Regions from separate parts of the Homo sapiens genome. Here all the other regions are linked to region 3. Evidence: fine-mapped expression QTL. A gene starts in region 3. Each other region holds a variant in brackets. All regions are shown on one strand. Distances are between the middles of the regions.

What was found.
Region 1: its variant is fine-mapped to the expression of CHST8 in ovary (GTEx, PIP above 0.99).
Region 2: its variant is fine-mapped to the expression of CHST8 in tibial nerve (GTEx, PIP 0.91).

What each region holds. Positions count from the first base shown.
Region 1 is chr19:33,545,656-33,555,624 of GRCh38, reverse strand. LOC100996681 (a long non-coding RNA gene) reads right to left here and starts at 2,537. Exons shown (of 3, transcript XR_158931.5): 1 at 2,075-2,537; 2 at 1-557. The variant C/A (reference allele first, on the strand shown) is at 5,331.
Region 2 is chr19:33,564,435-33,574,403 of GRCh38, reverse strand. No RefSeq gene overlaps it. Among named protein-coding and RNA genes, the nearest start is that of PEPD, 48 kb to the right of the region's middle. RefSeq lists enhancers at 6,427-7,258, 7,259-8,091. The variant C/T (reference allele first, on the strand shown) is at 4,372.
Region 3 is chr19:33,616,630-33,626,598 of GRCh38, reverse strand. CHST8 (carbohydrate sulfotransferase 8) reads right to left here and starts at 4,646. Exons shown (of 5, transcript NM_001127895.2): 1 at 4,303-4,646. RefSeq lists an enhancer at 4,941-5,685.

The DNA of each region.
Region 1 (9,969 bases), 71 kb after region 3:
GGGGCTGTGCTGGAGGAAGTGGCTCAGTGACACTGGGGTGGGGAGGGGAGGTCTTCTGGGAATGGATTGGCATGTACGGACTGTAGTGTCTAAGATCTAATAGACCCATGTCCTGTACCTACTGTGACAATGGGGAGCGGGGCATGCAGTGCTTTGGGTGGGGCACTGCCCATCCTAGTTGTGCAGAGCATGGTGGGAAAGGTCGAGAGGGCCTGTCTGTGTGGTGGCCCTATGGAAGGATGGGATGAGGGGTTCCTGGAGGGAGGGGTGATGGCTGGGAATCCCTAAGGCCATCACTGGGGGAAGGGGGTCTGCCAGGTCATTTCAGGGAGAGGAAGGGGTGTGCCCACTATCAGGCTGTTCCCTCTAGGACTCAAAGAAGGGGGCATGTAACCCAGACCCAGAGGCAGGGGGCACCTCTATCACACCCATTGTCATACACATGTTGAGAGCAGGGCTTGGCTGTGTCAGGTGCCCGGGATCTGACTTTCTCCCTGTGACCGTGAGGGTTTTATGTCCTGCTGGTCCTGATGTCCTCTGCACCGTCATGTCTGGGCCTGTGAAGGTGGCAAGATTTTCAAAGTCATCTGTGGAACATAAGCTCTAATGACAGAAAAGAATGTTTGAAATCAGGGGACCTCTGCTGAGGCTCCTGGGGCCGGGCAGAGAATGTCCTACAAGATGGGTGGCACCAATGTTTATAAGGACCTTCAGGACTGGTGAGAGCGCAGCCACACAGGAGCAGGCAATCTCCCGGCTAACAACACTCAGTACATGGGATGCGTGGATCCTGAGAAACACCATGGGGCATCGACGGACGCACCTCTGCTCTGCTATAGGCAGAAGAGGCAAGTATTTTGGTTCATGTGAGAGCATGCATGAGAGTGTGGACATGTGTAGGAGTGTGTGTGTGTGTGTGTGTAAGTGTACACAATGTGAGTATGCATGTGTATGACCATGCCGATGTGAGCAATTATGCATATGTGAGAGTGTGCGTGGGTGTGAACATGCCCCTGTGAGAGTGTGCATGTGTGCAATTGTGCACATGTGAGAGTGTGTGTGGATGTGAGCACGCACATGTGTGTATGTGTGACAAGCCCATGTGAGAGTGTGCGTGGGTATGAGCACGCACATATGTGTGTATGTGTGGCATGCCCATGTGAAAGTGTGCGTGTGTGTGTGCGTGTGCATATGTGTACATGTGAGTGTGTGCAACTGGGCGAGTTTGCACGTCTCCACTAAACTGTGCAGTCAGGAGGGCCTGGGGACCCAACAGCCAGCTGAATGTTTCAGCCCCAGCGCTCTTTTCAGCCCTTTCCCTATTAGTGGACTCATGGGACAAGCCTCCAGGAGTGGAAGGTGTCATTCCCACAAGGTAGACCTGGGGGCTATCCCTGAGGCCCGTGCTGCTATCTAAGACTAAGATGGTTTGAAGCCAGTGAAGAGAAGGCTTTCTTGGGTGCAGAACCACAAGGCCCTCACCACCCGCTAGCAGCTTTAACAGCTGTGGCTTCCGGGTGAAGGCTGCCGTAGGAGAGAAAACCTGCTCAGAGCGGGTGGGAGTTTGGATCCGCTTTTGGTCTTCAGTGCCCGGTGTTGGTGTGGTGCTGGTGGATGTGCAGGCCAGACACAGCTCAGCTCCAAAGGTAGGGCCCCAGGGGGATTTGCCTGGGAACACTGAGGCATCCAACAGCTCAGCAAAGAGCTGGGGCGATCGCTAAGAGGAAGGAGCCAAGTTGGGCACCAGAGCACCCCGCGATCGAGGCTCTCCCGCCCATAGTCAGATCCTACTGTGCTGGAGCTATGGCCGCTGCTCTTCCCCCTCCCTAGCCCCTCCTCACTTCCCTAGCTCCTTCCTTCCAGCCTGAGCTATTTGGGGAGGAACAATGCAGAACTGGTTTGGGCACAGTACGGGACCCTGGCTGAGCAGGAGGGGCCCTGATGGAAGAAGGCAAGGAGGCATTGCTGAGCCAGCAGGAACCGTGCTTCTGCCACCTATAAGCATGTGGGGGCAGGGCCTCCTTCTGGGCTGGGACATTGCCTGGTAACCTCTCCCTGTCTCCTCTGCCCACACCTTATACCAGCGACAGCATCCAGTGCTCCACAATGCTCCTGACGACGGCCATGGCTGCTGTTTATTGAGTGGTTAACTCTGTCCAAGTCCTGTGCTTGGTGCTATACACCAAGATATCTCTACTATACACAGATAATGACGAGGCATAACAGACCACGGGAGTGATTACTCTCTCCCTTTAGAGGTGGGGAAACAAGCCTGCGGGACTCATAGAAATAGAACTCTTGGTCACAGTCCTACAGCTACAGCAGGTTTAAGCCAAAATGGGATGTATTGGCTCATATATCCAAAAACTCTGGGAGCAGCCCCAGCTCCAGGTTCAGAATCTCAAATGATGCCACAAGGACCCTGTCCCATCCACATCTCTCTTCTAGGGTCTTCTCTACACTAGCCCCATTCTCCAGTGCCCACATGGGGCAAGATGGCAGCCTGCGGCTCGGGATCCCCAACCGTTCGGGAGTCCATCTGGGGCATGTGCAATGTCATTGGCTCTGATTGGGTCATGTGCTTAGCCCTGAACCAATCACCATGGCTGGAGAATGTGATGCTCTGATTGGTCAACCCCAGAGTTTTTGGGACAGTCAGCTGTTCAGAAGCAGGAGGACAAAGGCAGGAGGTCCCCAGAGAAGAACAGAAGAAGGTCAGTGACTGCATGCTGGATGGCAGGGCACAGACACCCACCACAAAGGCCAGAGCTGAGCCAGACTCCAGAGCCCCCCTCCATCTCTTCCCAACCTCCCTACGGCGCTTTGGGGTCGCTGGGCTGGCATGGCTGTCCCAAAATTTTTAAGACATGCCCACTGAAAAGTCCCTGACCGAGCCTCAGGCCTTGGGGACTGCATCTGTCAACATCACCTCTGCCCGAGATTTGGGGGAGGTGGAGGGTGCTGAAGGCAGGGATGGGGCCACTCCCACACAGGCTCTTCAAGTTGGGGCCCTGGGGAACCCAATCAAATTGTCACTGCAGTTATATAACATAAATATATGGGCTGTAATTATTTTTAAAAATATACCAATAAAATTGTCTCTGATTATTTTAGTCACAATACAAATCGCTTCAATTAGAGCAGAAATAGGGCGCGGGTTTATGGCTTCCCATGAATCTGAGAGTAACCTCGGCTCGGAGGTGGAAAAGCCGGCAGCTCCCTCTCGGCCCTCCGATGAATCCTGCGGCAAAATGGCCCCGAATCTAGTATGGAAGCAGCAGGCTGGAAGGAGGGAGAGGGGAAGCTGTCTGGGTCATGCGTGCAAGGCCTTGATGCCAACAGCTGGTTCCAGGCCTGTTGGGACAGGAGAGATCTCCAGGTTCACGGGAAGGCGTGATGTGGGATTGGGAACCCTGAACCCCTCATTGGTCCACACCCTCCCTATGTAGCCCCTGTCTCTCCCTCTGTAGTGGCATGAGTGGCCTGAGACTCTAGGGCCTAGAAGAGCCCCACTCAGGATGGAGCCTCTCTCCACCTCTCCTGGGCCTTCGGCTGTGGCCTGGTCCACCCAGTGCTCCCAGCCAGCAGCATCCAGGTTCCCCTTTATAAGATGGCAATTTCCACCTGCCGAGAAAGGGAGCCCAGTTGAGCCCTGAAATCCAGTCAACGCCCCAGTTACCAATGGGGAAACTGAGACACCAAGCAGAAGCATAGTTCAGGTCACACAACAAAGGAGCTGCAGACCAGAGAAGACTCCAGGCTCTGCCTCCCAGCCCTAGGAAGCCCCGGGAGAGGGTGGGGACAGAGGTCACTCTGTGGCCAACAGCCAGGCCCTCACCATCCTCCTGTCTTGCCCTACCCTTCTGCCCCAAGCTCTTCACAATGCTGAGACCCTCAAGAGCCCTACTGAGCCCCCTCTGCCCGGTCAGGGCCAAGGAGACCTCGGCAGACAGCCATCTCGCAAGTCTAGTTTGTGAGTTGGGCTCAGCCAATTAGATCGTGCTGTGGTCTGGATGTTCAGTCACTCCCCTCCAAATTCATATGTTGAAACCTAATCACCAATGTAATGGTGTTAGAAATGAGGCCTGTGGGAGGTGAATGGGATGAGTGCCCATATAAAAGAGGCTCCAAAGAGCTCCCTGGCCCCTTCCACCATATAAGGCACCACCTTCTACCAGAAAACGGGCTCTCACCAGACACCGAATCTGCCTGGGCCTTGATCTTGGACTTCCCAGCCTCCAGAACTGTGAAAAATAAATTTCTGTTGTTTATAAGCCACCTAGCTTAAGGCATTTTGTTATAGCAGCCCACACAGACTAAGACAGGTCCCCTTCCCCAGGGCCCACAGCCATGCTCTGTTCTCTGATGCTTTCCAGCCTGGAGTGTCATGACCTGCAGGAGACGCTCATCCCTCCCACCGTGGTGGTTTTGGAACACACTGCTGGCAACATCATTTGTCCAGGGACCCCCACTAGGGGAAAACAGCACTAAGGCCCAAGCCTCTCAGAGCCAGTACTACATAGGAGGTGCCCCCACACTTCCCAAGCTCACGGTGACCATGTGGCTTTGCTAAGAGAGCTGGCTGCAATATTCCTCTAGGCAGCTGGAGAGGAAGTCCCCTCCCTGTCCCTTCAGGCATGCACACAGGGGTATGGCAATGCGCCTCAGCCCTACCACACCTCCTCTACTGCCCGGGCTGGAGGGCAGTGGCATGATCTCGGCTCACTGAAACCTCTGCCTCCCAGGTTCAAGCAATTCTCCTGCCTTAGTCTCCTGAATAGCTGGAACTGCAGGCACACACCAACACACCCAGCTAATTTTTATAGTTTTAGTAGAGACAGGGTTTCGCCAGGCTAGCCAGCCTGGCCTCAAGTGATCCACCTGCCTCAGCCTCCTGTAGTGCTGGGATTACAGACGTGAGCCACCGCGCCCAGCCTGCACCTCCTCTTTTTGAGGAACATAAGCATTTTTCTGGCAAACACCAGTGAAAATGTTTTTGGAATTATTTTCCCATTGGAATTGCAATAAAAACACGGGTAAAGTTGGAGAGAACTTGAATCTTCACGCTAGCGGGTTTTCCCATCCGGGGAAGAACCATTTCTCTCTAACGAGGCACGTCTTTTTGCCCTTTTTATGGTTTTCTCTTTTTCTTTGTATGGGTCTGGCCTATTTCATGTTAAGCTGGTGTCATTTATCACTTTATTGATGCTGTGAATGAGGCCTTTTCCACTTTATTTTCCAGTCAGCTCGTCCCTGGCATGCAGGAAGCTATGGGTCTTTATCAGGCCACTTTTCCAGGCTTTCTTAGCAGTTCTGTTTTGCAATGAATT[C/A]TCTTGGACTTTCTGGGTAAATATAAACATTCTCTGCCAAGAATGATAATATTGTCTCTTGCTTTCTAATCTTTGGACTGTTTTTCGTTGTCTTTATTTCCAGTTGTACTGTCTTGGCCAAGTACCCTTGTTTAAGACATGTGGGGAGAGGGGTCACCTCCAGCTGCTCATGAGGCCCCCAAGAGCCCTCTGCACACCTGCAAGTCTCCTGCTGCAGCGTTCCCAAAAGCTCTTGTCTTTAGAACATTCTCAATCCAGGGCTGGGCATGGTGGCTTACGCCTGTAATCCCAGCACTTTAGGAGGCCAAGGCGGGCAGATCACCTGAGGCCAGGAGTATGAGACCAGCCTGGCCAACATGGCAAAACCCCATCTCTACTGAAAATACAAAAATTAGCTGGGAGTGGTGTTGGGCGCCTGTAGTCCCAGCTACTCGGGAGGCTGAGGCAGGAGAATCGCTTGGAGCCGGGTGGCGGAGGTTGCAGTGAGCTGAGATTGTACCATTGCACTCCAGCATGGGTGACAAAGCGAGACTCCGTCTCAAAAAAAAAAAAAAAAAGATCCTACCGAGGGCTGGTGGAAACACAGTCCCCGCCCCCCACAGTGGTGCTGTCTCCCCTTCCATCCAGCAAGCGTTTACTGAGCACCCACCACCGGACACACCCAGGACGACACCTGGGGATCCAAGGAAGACTGGGTGAGCATGGAGGAGAAGACTCATTGGTGCAGCAAGATGAACTTGTGCATGTGAGTGAGCAACTGGGGGATGGGGGTGGGGCACCGAGCTGAAAGGTGAACATGGCCCTTCCCGCTTGGCTCTACAGAGAGGGAAACAATGTAAGGGACAGATAGGAATCCCTGGTGGATGAGACAGGAGGAGCGTGCCGGTGAACCGCAGCCTGGAGGTGTGGAGGAACATGCCGCCCAAGTTCCTAAATCCAGCCAGCGCAGGATTTGAGGCTGGGGAGGAGAGGACACGAGGCTGGTGGCAGATGTGGGCTTGGCAGGGAGGCCTGAGACAAAGCGCTTAAATGTATCTGGAGGATGAGGGACTAAGGCATATGTACAAAAGGTCACTGCTATTCCTGGGATGGTGGGGGAGAGGGGCTGGAGCTGAGAACATCCTGGAGGATCAGAGAGAAATGGGCCTTTCCCAGATGAGAAGACTCGCTATTGTAAAGATTCAAGTTCTCTCCAAATTTATCTGTGGGTTTTTTTTTTTTTTTTTTTTTTTTTGAGATGGAGTCTCACTCTGTTGCCCAGGCTGGAGGGCAGTGGCGCTGTTTCAACTTCTGCCTCCCGGGTTCAAACGATTCTCCTGCCTCAGCCTCCCAAGTAACTGGGATTACAGGCACCTGCCACCACACCTGGCTAATTTTTGTATTTTTAGTAGAGATGGGGTTTTCATCACAACAAAATTAATGGCATTTTTTTTCCTCCTGACCCCAGGGAAGGGAGAAAATGGGCAACTCGCCAACTCCCACTCCCTACCTGCCCCCATCCCTGCTGTGGCTTCAGCTATACCCAGGCCTCCAGAGCAGAGGAGGGTAGAATAGATACCAAGGGCAATTTTCTACTCAGATAAACCATCATCATGAAATTGCATCACATACTGGTGACATTGAAAATAAAATTGTTTAATTTCTAATTTGGGGTAAACAAAAAGTTAAGGTGGCTTGCGTTGCAACGGTAGCAACATCCGGCAGGGTGCAGTGGCTCATGCCTGTAATCCCAGCACTTTGGGAGGCCGAGGCGGGTGGATCACAAGGTCAGGAATTCAAGACCAGCCTGGCCAAGATGGTGAAACCCCGTCTCTTCTAAAAATACAAAAATTAGCTGGGCGCAGTGGCAGGCGCCTGTAATCCCAGCTATTCGGGAGGCTGGGGTAGCTCGAACCTGGGAGACGGAGGTTGCAGTGAGCCAAGATCTCGCCACTGCACTCTAGCCTGGGTGATAGAGCAAGATTCCGTCTAAAAAAAAAAACAAAAACAGTAGCGACATCCACATTTTAGCAGCTGCTGGGAGGATGTCTCCTGGCTCTCAAAGCCCTTTCTGCCTTCTCTGGAAATGTACCCAAGACTCGGCCAGGCCCTGGCCGCAGCACCTGTGATTCAGAACTGGCCAAGTGGATTTTCTCTTCCAGGAACCAGAGGTGGTGAAGTTGAGTGCCTTATTCATGGCCAGTCCCAGGGAGAGGAAAACCCCAAAACTCCAGCCTCCAGGCCAGTCTGATTTTGTTCAGCAGTCTCTCTGGTCCAGAGAGCCAACTTCTCGGTGTTTGTTGGTCTGGAGCTGCCCACCATCCATTCCTTCTTGTTGGTGCCCTGATTGACCTGTGGGAATCACTACTCCCATGTTCTCAGTCTATGAGCTGCAGGTGGAGCTGCCCCGTCCACCTGGGCAGCAGCCTGTGACCCAGGGCCTCTGCCCATGAGAACACTGCTCTCCCGTGGCCACCAGGATTGGCCCTGAGGTGGGCATGTGCCTCTGGTCACATAGTCAGGCCTCATGAAGACTAATCCCAGGGCTTTTTTTTTTTTTTTTGAAATGGAGTCTCACTCTGTCACCCAGGCTGGAGTGCAATGGTGTGATCTCAGCTCACTGCAGCCTCCACCTCCTGAGTTCAAGCGATTCTTCTGCCTCAGCTTCCCGAGTAGCTGGGGCTACAGCGCCCGCCACCACGCCTGGCTAATTTTTGTTTTTTGTTTTTTTTTTAGTAAAAACGGGTTTTACCATGTTGGCCAGGCTGATCCCAAACTCCTGACCTCAGATGATCCACCCACCTCGGCCTCCCAAAGTGCTGGGATTAAAGGCTAAGCCACTGCACCTGGCCCTAGCCCAGGGCTTTTGTCTGAGCAACTTGGAGTAATCGTCTGCCATGTCCAAGTGGACCTGCACTTGGACAGGTGTAAGCAACCACTCTGCCACCATGAAGAGCCTAGGAAAGTCGTCCACAGAGTCAGCCAGAGCCCAGAGATTGTGCCTGAATCCAGCCCCACCTGAGGCCAGCCTGCCCTGGACAGGGGTCTACTCAGCCCGGGTGAATCGGGTGTTCTGCTCCTTGGCACTCCAAGAAACCTCCCCACAAACAGCATCTTTCCAGTAAACCCACCTCCACTCTTCTGGCTTAAGTGAATCCAAAGCAGTTTCTGTTGCCCAGCAGAAGAGCTGGCTCCAGAAGCCAAAAGGATAAGAACAGGGAGACCCAGCTCTAGGAGAGCCACAGATCTGGGGTTGTGACCAGTTCAGGGATGGATAAACCCAGCATTGGCCTTTTGCAGTGGGGACAGGAAGTGGAATCGCTTAAGCTGGATCCAGGGATGGGCCTGGGCATAGAAGGTTTGGGGGCCAGGTGGCTTGAGCTGGGCCTTGGTGGCATTTGGATGGGGGAAGAAGTACAGGTGTGGGAAGCCAAGCAGGCAGGACTAATTGGGTCCAGAGGCCTGGGCTGAGCAGAAGTGGACACGGTCTGGCGAGCAGGCTGGGGAGGTTGGTTTTGACACCAAGAAAATAGGACATCCCTGCAGTATGATTTACGCCGGATGGTGGATCATTGATTTAGGGTTTCTGACAGGTGTGCTATTCTGAAACTTGACAGAGAGAAACATTAAGTCCAGGAGTTCCCATTTTGCATCAAGCAATCGTATTTCTCTCCGCCTGGTCAATTCTACAGCCAAAGCACTTTTGTCCCCTGGAGGGAGTTAGGATGGATTTGAATTAACCAGGAAGTTCCTTGACTGCTATTTTAGAACTCCTCTCTGCTACCTGGCCTGACATAATAATTACCTGCCTGTGATTTATCTCAGGCAGATTATGAGTGATGATAGGGTTTGGGGTGATAATTGAGTGTATCCAGCACCCTACCTCCTCCCTTGTGATTCAAGCTGAAGCAGCCGTCATTGTCCCTCTGGGACACTTGTATGCACTGCTGCTGCACCAAGAGAGGGTTATGGAACGAGATGGGCATTTGGCAGCAACTTTCCACTGCAGCCAGCCCTATGGGAATCTCTCCAGTTGGGCCACTTGTAAGTCATCCTTTCGACTGTCTGGGGTCACCCAGGGCCATCTGTCTGTCACCACAGAGGTGATCCTCAGCATTCCACACCGCTGTGGTGACAGACAGATGGTCCTGGGTGACCCCAGACAGACAGGGGACCTGGAAGGTGCGGGAAACACTGTGGACTTTTGATGAATCCCTGCCAGAATTGAAGCTGCCACATTGAAGTGGCTTCTCTACCCAAGAGTTTCCTGAGATTTGGAAAGACTGAAGCATGACATGGGCTGTCCCTACTCATGTTTCCCAGGGACAGGAGCTTTGGCCGGGGCTCAGCAGGGACCTGGGCACTCTGTCAGGCCACCTTGTCACTGTCCCTGGAGGATGGAAGGGAAACATGTCCCAGAGTCCTGCCCAGCAGTAGCAAAGGGCATCTTAGCAGCCAAGAGTCACTCTGGGGCTGACAGGAGCATGGCATTGGGATCAGATGCTCCCATGCCAGCCTGGCTCTGCCATGTGCCAGCCATGTGCCTTTGGGAGGGTCATTGACATTTCTGGACTCTGGCATCTGCATCTGTGAAATGGATCATGAGGCTGCCATGAAGGTGCTCAGGCCTCCCTTCTAGAATTGCTGTTGAGGTGCAAGG
Region 2 (9,969 bases), 52 kb after region 3:
TTCATTTCTTGTGCTGGACAATTGGTGGGCTTTTTAACTGAAGAGAATTATGTCCCTCAACCATGGGAAACTGCCTTATAGTATTTTTACAATTTCCTCCCATTTGTTTTTTCTGTTGTCTTTTGTGGACTGCTGTTGACCAGGCAGACTGAGCCTTCTACATTTCTTCTCTTTCGGGACTCCTGGGAGGCTGAGCAAGCAACAGGCTGGTCTTTTTACTGGACAGACTACATATGCAATGTGTGGGGTTCTTCTCTCAGTGACAGCCCAGTTATTCCAGAAAGAACCTGCTGATATTCTAGCCAGGAACATGGAGTGTGTTTGCATGGTGTGTGGAATGTGCTGTGGTGTGTGTGGGGGTTGGTGGTGGTGGGTGGGTGGTATGTGACTGGGGAAATGCCATATCTGGTGAGTGAAGGAGGCCTAGCAATCCACACTGTTCCCCAGACATCTCTTATGCCTGATGCCCTAAAATTCAACTCCTTGGTTCAATTTCCTAATAAAATGAAACTCCAGCCTCTCATCTCCTGGATATTGAGCAAGGAGAGAGACTCTGGCATTTCAGAAGCTCAATTTACAGCTTTTTCACCAATTCCTCTGGTTTTGAAATTTTTTGGTAAAATATATGTAACATAAAATTTGCCAATTTTAACCCTTTTTAGGTGTACAATTCAGTGGCAGTATGTACATTCACAATGTTTTGTAACCATTACCACTATCTACTTCCAGAAATTTTTCATCATCCAAAACAGAAACTCTGTACCTATTAAGAAATAACACCCCATACCTTCCTGCCCCAGCCCCTGGGAACCTCTATTCTACTTTCTGTCTGTATTTATTTGGCCATTCTAGATACTTCATACAAGTGGAATTATACAATGTTTTCCCTTTTATGTCTGGCTTCTTTTCCTTAGCATAGTGTTTTCAAGGTTTTTCCATGTTGTAGCATGGGTCAGAATTTCAGTACATCTTGGGGCTGAATAACACTCCATTGCAGGTATATATATATCTCACATTTTTTAAAATGTATTCATCCATTAATGGACACTTGGGTTGTTTACACCTTTTTGGCTATTTTGAAAAATGCAGCTATTGAGGCAGGAGAATAGAGTCTGGAGGCAGAGAACCTTAGGCTGATCCATGCTGACTTCCTAGAACTGAATCAAGAGGAAAACCCTACCTTTAAGTAACAAAAGGATCAGTGGCTACTCCCTTTGCAACTCCCAACCCCTTTTCTGCATTGCAGATGAAAGACGAAAGTACCTCTGATTGGTCCCCTCTTGCAACCAATCAGACTGGTCACAGACCAAGTCTTCATCTGTAACTTTGTAACTTCACTTCGGCTTCTGGTTGGCCACCTTCTGCAACCAATTAGACTGGTTGCAAACCACTACTTTATTTACATAGGGTGTAAACCAAGTAACCAATAAAAAAAATCTCTAGAGGGTATTTAAACCCCAGAAAATTCTGCAAGGGGGCTCTTGAACTGCTTGCTCAAGCCTGCTCCCACTCTATGGAGTGTACTTTTATTTCAATAAATCTCTGCTTTCATTGCTTCATTCTTTCCTTGCTTTGTTTCTGCATTTTGTCCAATTCTTTGTTCAAAATGCCAAGAACCTGAACACCCTTCACCAGTGACACTCTGCTTATGGGTGTACAAGTATCTATTTTCATCCCTGTTTTTCAATATCTTGGATATATACCTAGGAACAGAATTGCTGGATCACATAATAATTCTATGTTCAACTTTTTGAAGAGCCACCAAACTGTTTTCCACTGGGGCATCACCATTTTACATTCCCACTAGCCATGCACAAGTTTTTCAATTTCTCTACATCCTCATCAACACTTGTTATTTTCTGGTGTGCTTTTAAACTTTTTTTTCTTTTTTGTAAATTATAGCTATTCTAATTGGTGTTAGGTGATATCTCATTGTGGTCTTGATTTGCGTTTCTCCAATGACTAATGATATTGAGCATATTGGACTCTTGGACGCTGAACCATATAACTAATGATATTAGCCAATCATCTTGTATTGGCTATTTGTATATCTTTTTTGGAGAGACTTCTATTCAAATTCTTTGCCCATTTTTAAAATTGAGTTGTTTGGGGATTTTCGTTGTTGTATTGTCCATTTGCAGGAGTTTTTATATATTCTAGATAAAGAAGGATTTACTTCTGCCATTTAGCTATTTGTTTTCTGTATGTCTTACATGATTTTTGTTGTATAATTCCCCCATTGCTGCCTTTTTAAAAATTTAGTTGATTTGTTTTGTAGTGTATCATTTTGATTCCATTTTTCTTTCCTTTTCTATATGTGTTTAGGTTATTCTCTTAGTGGTTACCTTGGAGATTACAAATAACATCTTAAACTTATAACAATTAAATTTGGATAATAGTTTCAATAGAATATAAATACTCTGTTCCTATACATCTTCATCCCTCCTCTTTACATTATTATTGTCACAGATTACATTTTATACCTTATGTGCCCATTAACATAGACTTACAATTATTGTTGTATACATTAGTTTCTTAAATCAGGTAGGAAAAAGGGAGAAGTTACAAACCAAACCAAAAGTATAAACCAAAACCAATCCAAACCAAAGGAAGTTACAAACCAAGGAAAAATAATATTGGCTTTTATATTTATCTATGTAGTTACCTTTACCAGTGTTAGTGTTATTTCATCTTACAGCTTCAAGTTACTGTCTTGTGTGTGTGTGTGTGTGTGTGTGTGTGTGTGTGTGTGTATCCAGCCTGTTAGCATTTCTAGGGCAGGTCTATTTGTAATGATCTCCCTCAGCTTTTGTTTTTCTTGAAATGTCTTAATTTCTCCCTCATTCTTAAAAAATAGTTTTGCCAGATGTTGAATTTTTGATTGAGTTTTTTTTCCAGGACTTTCATATGTGACCCCACTGCCTTTTAGCCTTCAGGGTTTCTAAAGAGAAATCAGCTATTAAGTTTTTGATGATACCTTGTACGTGATGAATTGCTTCTCCCTTGTTGCTTTCAAAATTCTCTCTTTGCTTTGGTTTCGGCAATTTGAGTATAATATGTCTCAGTATGGATCTCTTGAGTTTATCCTGTTTGGAGTTTGTTGAGCTTCTTGAGTATCTATATCATATCTTTCATCAGATTTGGGAAGCCTTTAGCCACAATTTCTTTAAATATGTTTTTCTGCCCCTTTCTCTTCCTTCTTCTGTAATTCCTATAATGCATAGTTATAGTTGATGACATCCCATAAATCCTTCAGGCTCTATTTATTTTCCTTCATTCATTTTTATTTATGTTCCTCAGACTGGATACTTTCAATTGTCTTATCTTCATGTTTGCCGATCCTTTCTTCTGCCTACTCAAATCTGCTGTAGAATGCTTCCAGTAAGTTTTTCATTTTAAGTTATTGTATTTTTCAGTTCCAAGACCAGTTTGGTTCCTTTCTTATAATTTCTCATTATTGATATTCTCATTTTTTAGACATTATTTTCTCAATTTCCTTTGGTTTTTTAATCCATGGTTTCTTTTAGCTCATTAAATGTGTCTAAGATAATTGATTTAATGTCTTTGACTAGTAATTCCTATGTCTGGTCTTCTTCGGGGATGGTTTCTGTCAAATGTTCTTTTCCTGTGAACAGGTCATACTTTCCTATTTCCTTGTATGTTTTGTACTTTTTTTGTTGAGTACTGGGCATTCTGATTATTATTGTGGTAATCCTGGAACTCTAACTCTCACACTCCTCAAGGATTGTGGATTTTTGCTTGTTAAGGATGGAGCCATCCATCTGTGATTTTTTTCCAGATTATTTTTACAAATTGTGATTGCTTATTGCATGTGGTCCTTGAAGTTCCTGTTCCGTTGTCTCTGTCAGTCAATGACCTGACAAAGATTTCCTTAAATGTTTGGCTCCCAAAATTGTTGAGGTGAGGGGAGGGAACAGGGAAGTCATGTCTCTTTAAATCCCCTCACAGCAGAAAAGCTGCTCTAGCTCTTGTGATCTGAAACAATGGCTGGACTCTGTGCCAGTCCCCCAGAGGTCAAAAGGATCAGCAATCAAAACACACAACTCTAATTTTTGGAGGATAAGGTTCTTATTCCCCACCCTGGCACCAGCAAGTCACACCAGGAATGCAGGCCACTGTCCCCACAGCTGTTTGCCACGGGGCTGGCAGGTGGGGGATGGTAGCCAGTACGCAAACATGGAAATGTATTAAAATTCACCAGCTTCTCCATTAAGTTTTCTCTTGGATGCCGAACGTGTTCAACTAGACTGCAGAGTTCCAAAATAGTTGCTTTAGACAGCCCTTGCCAGATCAAAACTTGTTAGGGTGGAGGGAAAGATTCCTGCAGCTTCTAACTGCACTCTTCTGTGA[C/T]GTCATCCAACTCCCTTGTTTTTAATCCTCCTAAACTCTCATTCCCAGTCCCAGCTTCCGGAATCCATCCCCACCACTTGCCTGAGGTTCTGTGTTAATGGGCATGTTACAGGAAAGGGGTTTGGATTCAGACTCCAAGAGAGGGGGGATTCTTGGATCTTGTGCAAGAAAGAACTCAGGATGAGTCTGTAAAGTGAAAGCAAGTTTATTAAGAAAGTAAAGGAATAAAAGAATGGCTACTCCATAGATAGAGCAGCCCCAAGGGCTGCTGGTTGCCCATTTTTATGGTTATTTCCTGATGATATGCTGAACGAGGGGTGGATTATTCATGCCTCCCCTTTCTGGACCATAGAGGGTAACTTCCAGACGTTGCCATGGCATTTGTAAACTGTCATGCTGCTTGTGGGATTGTAGCAGTGGGGACAACCAGAGGTCACTCTCGTCTCCATCTTGGTTTTGGTGGGTTTCTTCACTGCAACCTGTTTTGTCAGCAAGGTCTTTATAACCTGTATCTTGTGCTGACCTCCTATTTCATCCTGTGACTTAGAATGCCTTAACAATCTGGGAATGCAGCCCAGTAGGTCTCAGCCTCATTTTATCCAGCCTCTATTCAAGATGGAGTTGCTGTGGTTCAAACATCTCTGACAGGCTCATGCTCACCAGTCTCCTCTAAAGCACCTCAGGTGCTTTCTCTGCTCTGCCTAGTAAGATTGCCTTCCTCCAAGTTCTGCCTTCTGAAATTCATTGAAATCTCTCGTTGCTACTCTCTCCTCATTTGCCTTTGTCCTTATTGTTTTATACCTTTTTAAATTGCTTCACTTTCATGGTGGCAGTGTACCCACCTGAGAGATTCTTCATGCCCACTGCACAAATAAAGACCACAGCATTGCAGTAAAGAAAGAGTTTAACTGACAAGAGGCCAGCCACGCCACACAGGAGACAGAGTTGTTACTCAAATCAATCTCCTCAGAAATTGGGGGACAAGGGTTTTTAAGGGTAACTTGGTGGGTAGAAGGTTGGAAAGTGGTAAGTGCTGATTGGTTGGGTTGAAGATGAAATCATCGGGAGGTGAGGCTGTCCTCTTGCACTGAGTCAGCTCCTGGGTGGGGGGCCCCAAGACCAGATGAGCCAGTTTATCGATTTGGGTGGCATCAGCTGGTGCACTGGAGCAGAAGATCTGCAAAAGCACCAATCTCAGATTTTGCAACAGTGACTCCTACACCATAATTTCTAATCTTATGTGGCTAATTTTTTAGTCCTGCAAAGGCAGTCTAGTCCCCAAGCAAGAAGGGGGTTTGTTTTGGGAAAAGGCTGTTATCATCTTTGTTTCAAAATTAAACTGTAAACCAAGTTCCTCCCAAAGTTAGTTCGGCCTATGCCCAGGAATGAACAAGGACAACTTGGAGGTTAGGAGCAAGACGGAGTTGGTTCAGTCAGATCTCTTTTACTGTAATAATTTTCTCAGTCATAATTTTGGCAAAGGTGGTTTCAGCAGGGTTGGGACAGGGAGGACAAAATGCCTGGGGTCAGGCACAGGTGTTTAGAGGGAACTCAAGGTTTTGTTACTGTCCAACACCTGATTTCAGTGCAAGGCAGCAGCTGCCATTGACTGTCATCTGTTCCTCTGGGTATTGGCTACCATGGTCAGTAGAAATGGTGGGGCAGGAAGTTGGCAAGCTTTTTGCCAACTAGTATGGCCAAGTCATGGCAGGAGGGTCAGCTCTGGGCTGTGTTTAGGGGAAGACGAGCCAGAGTGTGATGTCTGGGGCTCCTGGTCACATGACAGGAGGGGATGCTGAATCCAAGCAGACCGGAACCTAGTCCTGCTGAATTCCAGGGCAGTCTGCTACTGCAGCTTTGCTCTGAGTCCCGTGCTACATGCCTTAAACTAAACGCGTAAATAATAGGTGGCTTTGATGCTGAGTGGGTTCCTCAGCCATCTGGATCCAGAGAGGAGTGAGTGAGCCTCTGTGAGCTGGGCTCAGGCTGCCATGCCCATACCAGTGTCTAATTGCAAGCGGGTGTCAGTAACTCTCCCAGGCCTTGGGAAGGCATCTCTTTTTCCTGGTCTTTGGTGTTTAATATTAAGTTTCAGCCAAGCTCATGATCACAGCTGTTGTCAAAGTATCTGCAGGAAAATCCGTTTTTATTGAAGCTGAAAAGGTCAGTTTTCTTGGACGTCTCCATGGTGAAAATAATAAATGCAGCTCATTCATACCCTTATGATATTTAGGCTCTTCAGCTGGAATGACCCTTGGGAAAAGATGCCTGAGATTTTAATTACGTTTCTCATCCTTCCCACCACAGTTGCTGCAGGAGTGATGGGCTGGCAAGCCATTCCCCTCCCTGGGTCGTTAGGTAGAGGTCAGGGAGTTGGCAACCTTGCCAGGGGGCATCTAGCTTAGCCTGGGTGAGCCCCAGTGGACCTGCTGGCTGAGAAAAGCAGTTCACCCACTGGGTCTACAGTGTGGCCCAAAAGTTATGTGGCTTCTGCTCTTCAGGGCTTGACCCATCTTTGGCCTGAATTTGCAGAAGGAGGGGTCTCTCCCCTCTGCCTATCCAAACCCCATCTGCACATAGGGATTCCCTTGGGGGAAGGTGTGAGCAGCCAAGGCTCATATTGTGAGCCTTGCCAGCTTCTGGTCTCTGAAGATTAGCCCAGTATCCAAGGCAGCTCAGCAGCTCTGCAGTGAGACGACTAGTGTCAGAGGCGTGTGAACAAGAGCAACTCCATCTTGAATAGGAGCTGGGTAAAATGAGGCTGAGAACTACTGGGCTGCATTGCCAAACAGTTAAGGCATTTTAAGTCACAGGATGAGATAGGAGGTCAGCACAAAATACAGGTCATAAAGACCTTGCTGATAAAACAGTTTCCAGTAAAGAAGTGGGCCAAAACCCACCAAAATCAAGATGGAGGCGAGAGTGACCTCTGGTCGTCCTCACTGCTACACTCCCACCAGCGCCATGACAGTTTACAAATGCCATGGCAACATCAGGAAGTTACCCTTTATGGTCTAAAAAGGGGAGGCATGAATCCACCTTTGTTTAGCGTAACATCAGGAAATAACCATGACAATGGGCAACCAGCTGCCCTCGGGGCTGCTCTGTCTATGGAGTAGCCATTCCTTATTCCTTTACTTTCTTAATAAACTTGCTTTCACTTTACTCTACAGACTTGTCCTGAATTATTTCTTGAGCGAGATCCAAGAACCCTCTCCTGGGGTCTGGATTGGGATCCCTTTCCTGTAACGCTAGGAGTACAAGTGCATCTCACCTGGGATTCCCCCATGATGGACTGAGGCGCAGGGAGGGGTGATCAAGAAGGCAGAGAAATAGATGCTGAGAGGCCAGGCGCAGTGGCTCACGCCTGTAATCCCAGCACTTTGGGAGGCCAAGCGGGCAGATCACCTGAGGTCAGGAGTTCAGACCAGCCTGGCCAACATGGCAAAACCCCATCTCTACTAAAAATACAAAAATTAGCCAGGTGTGGTGGCAGGCACCCGTAATCCCAGATACTCGGGAGGCTGAGGCAGGAGCATCACTTGAACCTGGGAGGCAGAGGTTGCACAGTGAGCCGAGACTGCACCACTGCTCTCCAGCCTGGGCGATAGAGCAAGACTCTGTCAGAAAAGAAGGGAGAGAGAGAGAAAGAGAGAGAGAGAAAGGGGGGAGAGGAAGGAAGGAAGAAAGGAAGGAAGGGAGGGAGGGAGGGAGGAAGGAAGGAAGGAAGGGAGGGAGGGAGGGAGGGAGGAAGGAAGGAAGGAAGGAAGGAAGGAAGGAAGGAAGGAAAAAAGAAAAGGAAAGGAAAGAAAAGAGATGCTGAGAAGGCAGGGTGAGGCCCTACTCCAAGGAGGGCAGGCGGTAAGGAGTGCAGGGAGAGAACCAAGGCAGCCTGCTGTTTATGTCTTTGTAGGTATTCATTCCTCATGAATCCAAGCGATTAGTGTGTCACCACTATCTTTTGATGTTTACTAGTTTTGCCTGGTCTCTAGCAAACCCTTTCAACCTGCAGATTTAGATCTGTCTTCAGTTCAGCCAGGTTTTCCTCTTTTATTTTTGAATATTTTTTCTTCCTTGTTAGTCATGTTCTTTCTTCATTAACACCCATCCTCCTGATTGGATTTCCAATCTCTTTTCTTCAAAGCCGCTGCTCTGCCGATTATTGCTTCTAACTTCTCTGGTCCTTTTTTTGTTCGTTTGTTTTGTTTTGTTTTGTTTTGTTTTTGGTGCACTCTGAAAAAGCCTCTCAAACCTATGCTCCATGTCACCGAGTCCACTGTCTGCAGGGTTCTCACAGATTCTCCCTGTCGCTGACCCTTCTGCGATTTTGCTGTGATGTTTGTGTCCTTGGATGCTTTACCTGACTACCAGCTCCATTTCCACCACAGCTTGTCCTCATCCTCTCTTCCCCATTTGGTTTGCAGATTCAATGTTTTCATTTTGGAAAGAAAACCTTACATCTGTTTCCTGGAGTAAATATTTTTAGAATTCTGTTTTTTCTCTTTCCTTGATATCATGACAATACGGTTTTCTGCTCCATCTGTCTTTTCTTCAGGGGGCTGGATAGCTGAGCTCACTCTCATGCCCAGGCTTTTGCCTGTCAAGTTGAGGGCATCCCCATCCCACTGTGTGAGTGAGCTGCATCTCTCTTGTTCAGGAAGGGGGCCCCAAGGGCAGATGGAGCTCACTACAGTGGTGAAGGGGCCATTGGAGAAGAGGCCAGGCCACAGAATTCTGCCTGCTGGAAACACTGGGTCTTCACGGTCAACAAAGCATCCTCATGACTGCTGGTTCCCGGACACAAAAGGTGCTCATGAGCAGCCTACTCATGTCTAGCCCACCTCTGCAAGTTTGAGGGGGTTCAAGAAGGAGTTCCTCCATCCCAGGAAATGCTCACGTCAGCATCCCAGGGCTTCTAGGTGCAGCCAAGACTGTGCCCATGTATCTGAAGCTGGGGTGTCTGCAGGCCCTTAAGACAAGGCAGGCACTGGCCCCATCTCCCCAACGGCTGCCGCCCCTGCATGCTCACCCTGGAGAGGAGGACATGACTTTCCACTAGCGTGTCCTTGACTTTCTTTCCCACACCATGCTGCCTCCCCTGGAGAGAGGGCTGTATGTCTGCTTTAAGCCAAAAATTCACTCTGGTCTCAGCAGCCTAGCACCTGACAGAAACTCCTTGAAGTTTGCAAAATGTAGCTGACGCTTTCACTGAGTTTCAGTAGGACTTCTCCGATTTTTGTTTTCTTTTTTTTATCCCATTCTTCTCACTTCAGACAATGGCCATCTTCATTTATACATCTCACACCTGGTAAGTTACAGGCTATGTCAGTTACCACTGGCCCCGCAAATGCATTTTACATACACATCTATGACTAAGGAACGTAGTGAGTAATTTTTCCTAGTGAAATTTTCATAAGGGACAAAAGTATTTCGTATGCATGTAAGGGTGATGGCATGTCTCTAGGGAATTTGGAGAGAAAGCTCAGCTGCTTCTTCTAAACATGGAGAAGATCACAGGGCCAACCTCAAGTTCTGTGGCTTAAATTAATTAAGACAACCAAGACTTGTGAGGGCCTTGGGGTGCCTGACCCATGGAGG
Region 3 (9,969 bases):
TGTGGGAACTAATAGAGCAAGAACTCACTCCCTGCCTCACAATAGCATTAATCTATTCATAAAGGGGCCACCCCCATGACCTACCTCCCACCAGGCCCCACCTCTAACACTGGGGATCACATTTCAAGGTAAGATTCACAGGGGACAAACATCCAAATTATTGCACAGATACTCTCTGACTTCCTAAAAGGTGGCTTTGGCAATGGGGCCAGGGCTGCTTCTTGGTGTCAACCCACCTGCACGGAGGCTTCCCCAGTCTCTCGGTGGCCCAGGCTGCATTGCTGAGTTTCTAAGGGTCCGGGAATGAATCCAGCCAGTGCAGGCTAGAACACCACATCACAAATGACAGGTAGTTTTGTACAGGGTAAAAGTCACAACTTTTTTCCATGACCAATTTGTAAGCCTCACGATCTGCCATGCTGATTTACTGACCACAGGGTCACACATCCTCCAGCTGATAAGAAATGAGATGGCGTCTGCCGCATCCTCTGGCACCTGAGCTAATGCAGCTCTGTCCCCGGGTTGTCTGGGTCCGTGGGTTTCCTCTGGAGGGAACACAGCCGCTCTGGAGTCAGATGAGCCCTGAATATGGCGCCAAAGACAGCACCAAACAGCCTACTGTCACCACGCTGTCACCATGCAGATTGCTCATGCCCAGCCAACTTTCTGAGGTTGCAGGACACTGATGCCATATCTACATCCAGGCACCAACCTCAATTTAAAAAAAAAAATTTATTTTGAGACAGTCTCGCTTTGTCGCCTAGGCTGGAGTGCAGGGGCATGATCTCGGCTCACTGCAACTTCTGTCTCCCAGGTTCAAGTGATTCTCCTGCCTCAGCCTCCTGAGTAGCTGGGACTACAGGTGAGCACCACCATGCCCGGCTAATTTTTGTCTTTTTAGTAGAGACTGGGTTTCACCACGTAGGTCAGGCTGGTCTCAAACTCCTGACCTCAAGTGATCCACCCACCTCGGCCTCCCAAAGTGCTGGGATTACAGGCGTGAGCCACCGTGCCTGGCCGATCTTTTAAAAACATATTTACTTATTTATTTCATTTTTTGCTGTGCCACTGCCGGGTCACATTGATCTCCTTGGGCCAGCACTATATAAATCTCCAGTTTATAACTCGTCACCTTCTGGTTAGCTGAAAGGCTGGCCACTCATTCCACATGGTGTTTATCGGCTCTAATTGCCACGGTTGCTCACTAAAGAGCAGCCATGCGGGGCGCGGTAGCTCACGCCTGTAATCCCAACACTCTGGGAGGCCAAGGTGGGCGGATCACGAGGTCAGGAGATCGAGACCATCCTGGCCAATATGGTGAAACCCTGTCTCTACTAAATACAAAATTAGCCGGGAGTGGTGGCGCATGCCTGTAATCCCAGCTACTCGGGAGGCTGAGGCAGGAGAATTGCTTGAACCCAGGAGGCAGAGCTTGTGGCAAACAGAGATCGCAACATTGCACTCTAGCCTGGGCAACAAGAGTGAAACTTTATCTCAAAAAAAAAAAAAAGAAAGAAAGAAAGCTGCCATAATCCTGTGTCCTCTTTCCTGCTCACAGGTTCCCCGCTGCCCCACGTTTCTCCAGTGTGGCTGCCACGCACCAGTAAATCAGGGAGGGAGGTTTTTCCAAGCTGCAAAGCAGCAGATGTAGCTAAGACAGGGATCTCAGATTCCAGGCCAGGCAGCAGGCAGGAGATGGGGACATCAGCCAGGGACCTCAGCTTGGGCCACACCTTCCCCATCAGCCCCTACAAGCACAGCCGCACTCACTAAAAATTTCTCCAGCCAGACGCATCAGCAATGATCAAAGCTCCCCTTCCTCTCTTCCATCAGCAAAACCACAAAAAGCCTATCAGGCTGCCTCTGGCAGGAACTCAGAGCTCAGAGCAGGGGAGCAGCCTGCGCGAGGTTTCCAATCAGGCAAATCTGACTCTCCCCTTTTTAAGAGAACTGAAGACAAATTCTGAGAGTAGCCCACCAGACACACTTTCTCAACAACCATACGGCAAAAAAGTCGTTTTTGAACTTTCCCAGACTTATTAGCTTACATAAACAGAGATTTGAATAAATGTTTAAAAAATGAAATTCCCTGGATACCCTGTAATCAGTAAATGTTCATTATGGAAACACAGCAAATATGCATGAAATTTCCCAAGTGATATTCTGGCTACAAGATTATAAAGGCATCTCTAACAGCAGGCTGAGTTACAAAGCATCCTCTGTCGTCGGTTACAGTCCGAGGGGGATGTTCTACCAAGCCCAGGAGGTCAGACGAGCCTGCTCTCCTCTCCCAACTGGAGCCAAGGAAAATCAAAAGATGCTCATTTTGCCTGCTCAGGCAATTTATAAATGAGCCCCCACGCTGCCTGATGGATGCCTCTCGATAAATAATTAATCCTTGACCTTGCTTTAAGAAAGCCTTGACTTTTTAATTTGGGGTCTTTTTAAAAATCAATACCCGGGAAACATAATTCACTCTTGCCGAGTCTGATTCCAGGTTAATAAATAAATAAGTAAATAAATGAGCTGCACTGTTTGTGTGTCCCAGGGCGACTGGGCCAGGCAATGGGTCAGGTTCCGGCTTTGAGGTTTTTCTGTGTTCAAATGCTATTGGATAATTGATCAGCCAGTCCCACTGGAACCAACATTCAGACCCTCAAGAGGTCCCTCTCTTCAGGGTTCCAATGTTATTCCTCCCGTGGGTCACTTCACAGAGGCCAGTCTGCTGAACGCTCCTGAATGAACTCCCACGCCGCCTTCTGTGCTTGGGGTGTCCTGATTAAAATTAAAAGAGGATCTCCTGCTGGGATGAGTGTCCTTCCTGTGGCCTGTCTGCCTTGCCTTTGGGACAGGGCACAGGGTGGGCAGGAAAGGTCATGACAGCTGGAAAATGTTAAGGGCTCTGCCACACCTGCTCCACGGGTGCCCTGTCCTAGGGCAGGACTTAGGGAAAGACTTCCCCACAGGTAGGCAAGGGTCAAGGTGAACTCAGAAGAGAAAGGTTACCCAGGAAAGTGGGCTTGGTATTGTAGCTCCTGGGGGCCTTGGGCGGCGGTGGGAAATAAAAGGGGGTTGATCTGCCTCTTACCCCTCTGTCCCCCGCCCCTCTCCACCATCCACTCCAAAGCAGCTACTACCTCCCTGCACCCAACGCCTCTCCCACGTGCTCTGCTGCTGCGCCAGATCGCGCCAAGCAGATGGAGAGGGGCCGGGACGCGCGTTCCCCTTAACGGAGCTGATCACGGCTCCTGAGCCAGCGGGAGTGGCCCAGGGACGCAGAGTCCTCTGGGACGCCGGAGACGACTGCAGGACAGAGAGCCCCAGGATCGGCGCCTACTTCTGGGTTAAAACAGACAGCCGGGCAGCAGCGCCCACAGCCGAGGGCGCCGCAGCCGCTTCAACTCCGGGTCGGGGTCGCGGGCCTGGAGACAAGATGTACGCGAAAGTTAGGGCGGCGGGAGTCCCGCACTGGAGAAGGAATCGGGGTCACATCAGACCCAAGCCCCAGCATCGGGCACTGCCAAAACCCGTGATCGCCCTCCTGGCCCGGCTGGCCTCCAGCGAGGCCAGAGCGGGTCTGCAGAGTCGGTAGCCGGAGTTGCAGCCGCCGTCAGAGCTCGGCTCGGTCCCGCGGCCAAACGGATCATTTCCCCGCCCCCTGGAGCCGCCCCAGGCTCCGACTCCCGCACTCCCGACACACGCACGCACACACCTTCACACCATCGCTGACGCACGCACACTCGCCTCCAGCACTCACAGGCCGGTGCCCTGGAGAGTTGCGGGTCGGGGACGCGCGCGACGGAGCCGCTGGGTAGGAAGCCAAGGCCACTTAAACTTCCCCCATAGTCTCTGCCCGCCGCAACCCGTCCGGAGCCCCGGCTCCGAGCGCGCCAGGAAGCCCCAGCGCCCCGAGCGCTCCTGCCTGGCCCTCGGCGCTCGCTGCTCAGCGCCCGACGCCGCCTCCCCGCGGGCAGCACCGAGGGCCAGGAGGCGGAGCGGGAGTCCGCAGGGACCAAGAGGGCCCGAGGGACGGCAGTTCCCAGAAGCGCGGCAGCGAGTGAGATCCAAGGAGAGAAAGTCTAATTAAAGTTCCCGCTACCGGGGCCGGTCCCCAAAGTGCAACCAGACCCGAGCCCCGCGCGCCCACCTCCGCCCGCAGCTTCGGACTCCCATTCGCGTGCGGTGGCGGGGATGGCGAGCGGTGCAGTCCGGGGCCCGCTCGGGACCCCTTCCTGGCGTCTCTGCAGGCCAGGAGCCTGCGCAGGGCGGGAACAGGGGTGGGGCAGGGGCGCAGCCACTTACCTGGCGCAGCGGACGCACCCGAGGCCGCGGGCGCCTCCAGTCCGGGAGCGGTTCTCCGCGGCGGATCCTCTGCTTGGGGCGCGCAGGCGGCGGAGAGGACCTCCGACCCAGCTCGGGCCCGGTGCCTCCGCCCGCTCCAAGCGGAACCCAGTGCGATCTGTGGGCGAGCAGCGTGGGGCCGGCAGCCGGAGCGTGCGGGGAGCGAGAGGGCGCGGGGCGGCGTTCCTCTTCGGCCCCCGGCGCGATCGGTCCCCCACCTCCTGCTGCCGCCGCCGCCTCGTCCTCTCTCCTCCCCGCAGCACTGCCGGATCCGGCTTGCGCGCCGGGAAGGCTCCCAGCGAAGTGAGAGCGAAGCCTCCGGCGAGGCTGGAAATAGCGCCGCGCCCGCCCGGCGCCCCGCCCCCGGCCCGTGCCCCGCCCCGCCGTGGTGGCGGCTACGGCGGTGGCCGGGCCGGGCGGGGATCGCTCCAGCGATGCACTCGGCCCTCCCGGGGGCTCGCGGGCGCCGCGCCCACGCGCGCTCTGCGGCTCCCGCGGCCCCTCTGGCAGCGCTCTCAGAAAGAGTCGCTGCTGGGCGCGGTCCGGCGGCCGCGGGGGTGGGAGCGGTCGTGGCTGGGGCTGCGCCGGTCTCCCGGTTCAGGAGAGCCGGACTCCGGCCTGACGCTAGGCTCCAGACCGCGGCCAGTGCTGCCACTGCCTCGGTGGGTCGCACGCGGCGCCAACCCGGGAAAAGGACCAGGCGTCACCGGGGCGGGCCTTGACCACAGCGGGGCAGGGGCGCGCGCCCAGGACCCGATGCTGCGGGGGCGCAGGGCCGGTGAAAGGCGGAAGATTGATCCTGAGGAAGATTCTGGGATATCCCTGGGCTTCAGCTCGCGTGGAATTCGGTCAAGGCCGCGAGCTGCCTCAGGCCCGGGTGTCCGCATCCATCCTCAAATCCCTGGGGCTCTAGATTCTGCTGAAAGTGCCCTGCGAACAGGTGCTCCCTTCAGGACTTCATCCTGGAAGTTTGTGTCGGGTCACCAGCCTGAGAGCGGGGCCAACCGACCCTCTTCATACACACTCGGGAAAACAGCGTGGAGGGTGGAACCGGCCCACGGCCACACAGCACCGGGACAGAGTAGGGACAGGAACACGGGGCCCTGGATTCGGGTCCTTGTTCTTCCTAAGAAGAGGCAGCCCCAGCCTGCAGGGGACAAGCAGGCCTTGGGAAGGGGGGCAACTGCTTTCTCACAGGAGCTGGAGGAAACTGTGCACACAGTCACCTGTTAGTCTTGAAGGGACACTCAGTATTTTCAAACAACAGCAGAGAAGCCTTTAATAAAGTGAAAGACCCTTACTCTCTCCTCTCTAATGGTACCTGCTGGCTGGTTGGCCTGACTCCTACCAGCTGACCTAGAGTGAGTGATGGAATTGGGGAGTGAGCTGGGCCCATGGGTCTTGACTGACCAGAGTGGGGGACACCAGGCGGAGAGCAGAGCCACTCCTGGGGACGGCCAGGGAGCCCCTCAGCCCCAGGGCCATGAGGCCTCCTTAATGCCCCAGGTAAGCTCAGAGCATCCAAAAATAGACCAGGACAGATAAGAAGATAAATAGAAGCATGACAAAGAGATCATGGTCTTCCTTTAATTCTTGCAGCAACAGAGTAGACATTATCACTCCCGTATTACAGATGAGCGAATTGAGATGCAAAAATGCCACCATTTTGCTGGACTCCACGCATCTGGAGAATGGCCCAGGTGTGATGATTCCAAACTGGGATAGGCTTTGTTCTGGGGTTCCCTTTCCAGGACTTTAGGCTCGGAGTGACCCAGGCCTGGGGCTGCGCTGGGACCCAGGCACACTCCACTGGCTGCACGCATGAGGGGAATGTGTGTGTGTGTGTGTGTGTGTGTGTGTGTCTGAAATCACCCTCCTCCGCCTCAGTCAGGTGCAGATTGGAGGAGCTGAGTGCAAGGGCCAGGGACTCAAGTGTCAGGAAAAACAGGGCAGTGGAACCCTTATTCATCCTACATCCCAAAGCTGTTGGAGCAGAGCAGGAGAGAAGGTAGGAACAAAGAGAGGGGAGAGTGGAGTGAGCAAAAAGTCACTTGCCGGACTAGCTCACAGTGCAATGACCCCATCCCTGTCCCTGTGGTCCCCTTACCCCACACTTGCAGCCCCTCTTGCCACCCAAGGTCCTGACCATAGCTTGGCTGGGCAGCTGCCCATGAGCTCCCTGTCTGCAGTTAGGCCTGGAACAGAGCACACAACTTTTGCCACAGAGGCCTGATGGTCAAGAGAATCTCTTCAGTACCATGAACACTCCAGAGGGCAAATGCATGCACACACACACACACATGCACACACACGGAGAGAGAAAGAGAGACTTAACTGCAATGGGGAGATAATAGGAGCTCCCATTTCCAGAGCCCAGCCTCAAAGCTGGAAAGGGGGCTCTGGACCATGAGTACTTCCATGCGACAAGTCTACACAGGCTTTATTTCCCTGGGATGCATCTATACAGGCTTTGCCGTGACCAGTGAGTGGAGCGAGCCAAGCCATCTCAGCAACACTGTGCATCTGTGTGCCGCGATCCTCCTGGGAAGGATGGTTTTTCCATTAGCTTTCCCAACTGTACTTATTAGCACTTATTTGCATCTAATATTCAGGCAGACACCACTAGGAATCAATAACGCTGCATTCCTTTGACATTCTCTCCATTTTCCATTTTTAACTCAGACTTCCTTCTTGTTTTGAGAGGCCATGGGGGAAATCCCCAAAGGGGGCCTGAGGCCCCTGGCACCAACTCGCAGTGAGTTTTCCTCCGAGATTTGCCAAGGGCTGCGTGCCCTTTTTTGAAAGTCAGGCTCAGCCTCTGCAGCGAGGGAGGAGCAGGAAGGCTGCAATTCCCTGCAGGAAGCCTTGTGTGCTCACTTGCGATTTTTGATATGTGTGTCTCCACCGAAAGATTAGTGGCAAACTTGTCTCTTTGCATCCCAACTAAGGTGAAAGACATTTTTAGTGCATGGCCCCATGCGCCCACAGCCTAAGCCCCAGAAGGGCTAATAGAGAGGTTCAGGTGCCAATCTGTTTGCTGCAACAAGGATACAGGAAAGAGGAGGGGGCTTGGCTCTGGGACGCAGGCAGACCCCCGCCTCCACTGGCTCTGGGCTCCCTTTCCTCAGGCCGTTCCTGCAAGTGAAGGTTCCTGCCCGTCTTTGGGCTGGAGGCTGAAGGTGGCACAGTGGGAAGCTGAGACTGTCTCACATTGTGTTTGGCAAGACTGAGTCTTGAGTCCTGAACCTTCCATCTGTTGCCATGAGAGGAACCAGAACAGGCTGGGCATGGTGGCTCATGCCTGTAATTCCAGCACTTTGGGAGGCTGAGGTGGGCAGATCACTTGAGGCTAGGAGTTTGAGACCAGCCTGGCCAACATAGCAAAACCCCATCTCTACTAAAAATACAAAAGTTAGCAGGGCATGGTGGTGCTCACCTGTAGCCCCAGCTACTCAGGAAGCTGAGGCAGGAGAATCACTTGAATCTGGGAGGCAGAAGTTGCAGTGAGCTGAGATTGTGCCACTGCACTCCAGCCTGGGTGACAGCGTGAGACTCTATTAAAAAAAAAAGAAGAAGGAGAAGGAGAAGGAGAAGAAGAAGAAGAAGAAGAAGAAGAAGAAGAAGAAGAAGAGAAGAGGAAGAAGAGGAAGAAGAGGAGGAAGAGGAGGAAGAGGAGGAAGAAGAGGAAGAAGAGGAAGAAGAAGAAGAAGAAGAAAAGAAGAGGAAGAAGAGGAAAAAGAAGGAGGAGGAGAAGAAGAGGAAGAAGAAGAAGAAGAAGAAGAAGAAGAAGAAGAAGAAGAAGAAGAAGAAGAAGAAGAAGAAGAAGAAGAAGACGAGGAAGAAGAAGAAGAAGAAGAAGACTTGTTCCACAGAGGAGTTTGGGAGCCATCTATACTGGCAGGTCGGGAACACCTCATCTGTCTCCCTGCATCCCATGGGAGGAAGAAGGGAATGATGGGATGGGCCAGGAGGTCTGCTTCAGCTCTCCCAGGTGCCAGCTAGGGGGTCTTGAACTTGTCTCCTAACCCCTCAGAGCCTGTTCCCTGTATGCAGAGACAATAGACTGTCCCTGCAGAGGAAAGGTGAAGGGTGTCATGGCATTTTGGGAATTGGAGTCCTGTGACCAGACTGCCCTTAGCCACCCACAGACTAGTCACCTCAGGGTATGACGTGGCCTGGCCTTGCTTCCACGTCCAACATCTGGCCCTGTAATGGCCTCTGCAATATTGTGACCCCAAGGCTTCCTGAAGTCAGTTCAACACACAGACAGGCCAGTGACGTGCTGATCAGAGTGCCATCCAGGCGGGAGACTCCTCCTGGGAACGGACCTGCCTTCCTCAGCTGCTCTCTGGGGCCTGTGTGGGCTCCGGGCCATGCCTTCCCTCCCCAGGCCTCGACCTCCCCATTCGAAAGATGAGGGATGGGGGCCCAGGATCTGAAGGCCTGCTGTGCAATTCCATGATTCCTAAAAGTTCCTCACCAGGGAACGTGGCCCAGACTCATTTCCAGCCAAGGTATCCCTTGGCCACCTTATGGGATGAATGTTCCTTCCCAGGCCTTTTCCTCCTCTCTCCTTTCCCCTTTTCTGTCACCTCTTGGGTTTTCAAGGAGCTGGAGGGTCACTTTGTTTCCTTCTGAGTTGAGTTGTCTGAAATTTCCTGATGTCAATATGCCTGGGTGGGTATCCCCTGCATAAGCAACATTGCTGGGGGTTCTGGGCATCCCTGAACCCCATATACCTGTCACAATTTCGAAATTTCACCATCATTCCTCAGGGTATAAGAATGGTTTCTCTTGGCTGGGTATGGTGGCTCACGCCTGTAATCCCAGCACTTTGGGAGGCAGAGAAGGGCAGATCACAAGGTCAGGAGTTCAACACCAGCCTGGCCAACATGGTGAAACCCCATCTCTACTAAAAACACAAAAATTAGCCAGGCGTGATGGTGCACGCCTATAATCCCAGCTACTGGGGAGGCTGAGGCAGGAGAATTGCTTGAACCCAGGAGGTGGAGGTTGCAGCGAGCTGAGATGGCGCCACTGCACTCCAGCCTGGGTAACAGAGCAAGACTCCGTCTGAAAAAAAAAAAAAAAAAAAAAGGAATAGTTTCTCTTTAAAGAGAAGTTTTTCTGGGGCAGGCTAAAGTGACACCAGTCCTTAACACAGAAGAGAGTTGGTGAACAGATGTGGTTTTCTAGAGAGTGCACAACAGAAACTATGACTAACTTGCAAAGAAAGGGGAGACTTTATTTTTCTGAGACAGAATCTCACTCTATCACCCAGGCTGGAGTGCAGTGGCATGACCCTAGCTCACTGCAACCTCAAACTCCTGGGCTCAAAGGGTCCTCCCACCTCGTTCTCCTGAGTAGCTGGGAACACAGGTGTGCACCACCATGGCCAACTAATTTTTTATTTTTTATTTTCTGTAGAGACAGGGTCTCACTGTGCTACCTAGGCTGGTCTCGAACTCCTAGGCTTGAGTCATCTTCCTGCTTGGCCTCCCAAAAGTGTTGGGATGATAGGCATGAGCCACCATGCCCTGCCAGACTTTCTTAAAAGGACACTGGGGAATCCAACAGAGCAGAGAGGCGCTGAGTACCCAGGAGGGAAGAAGGCAGGAACCAGGGAAT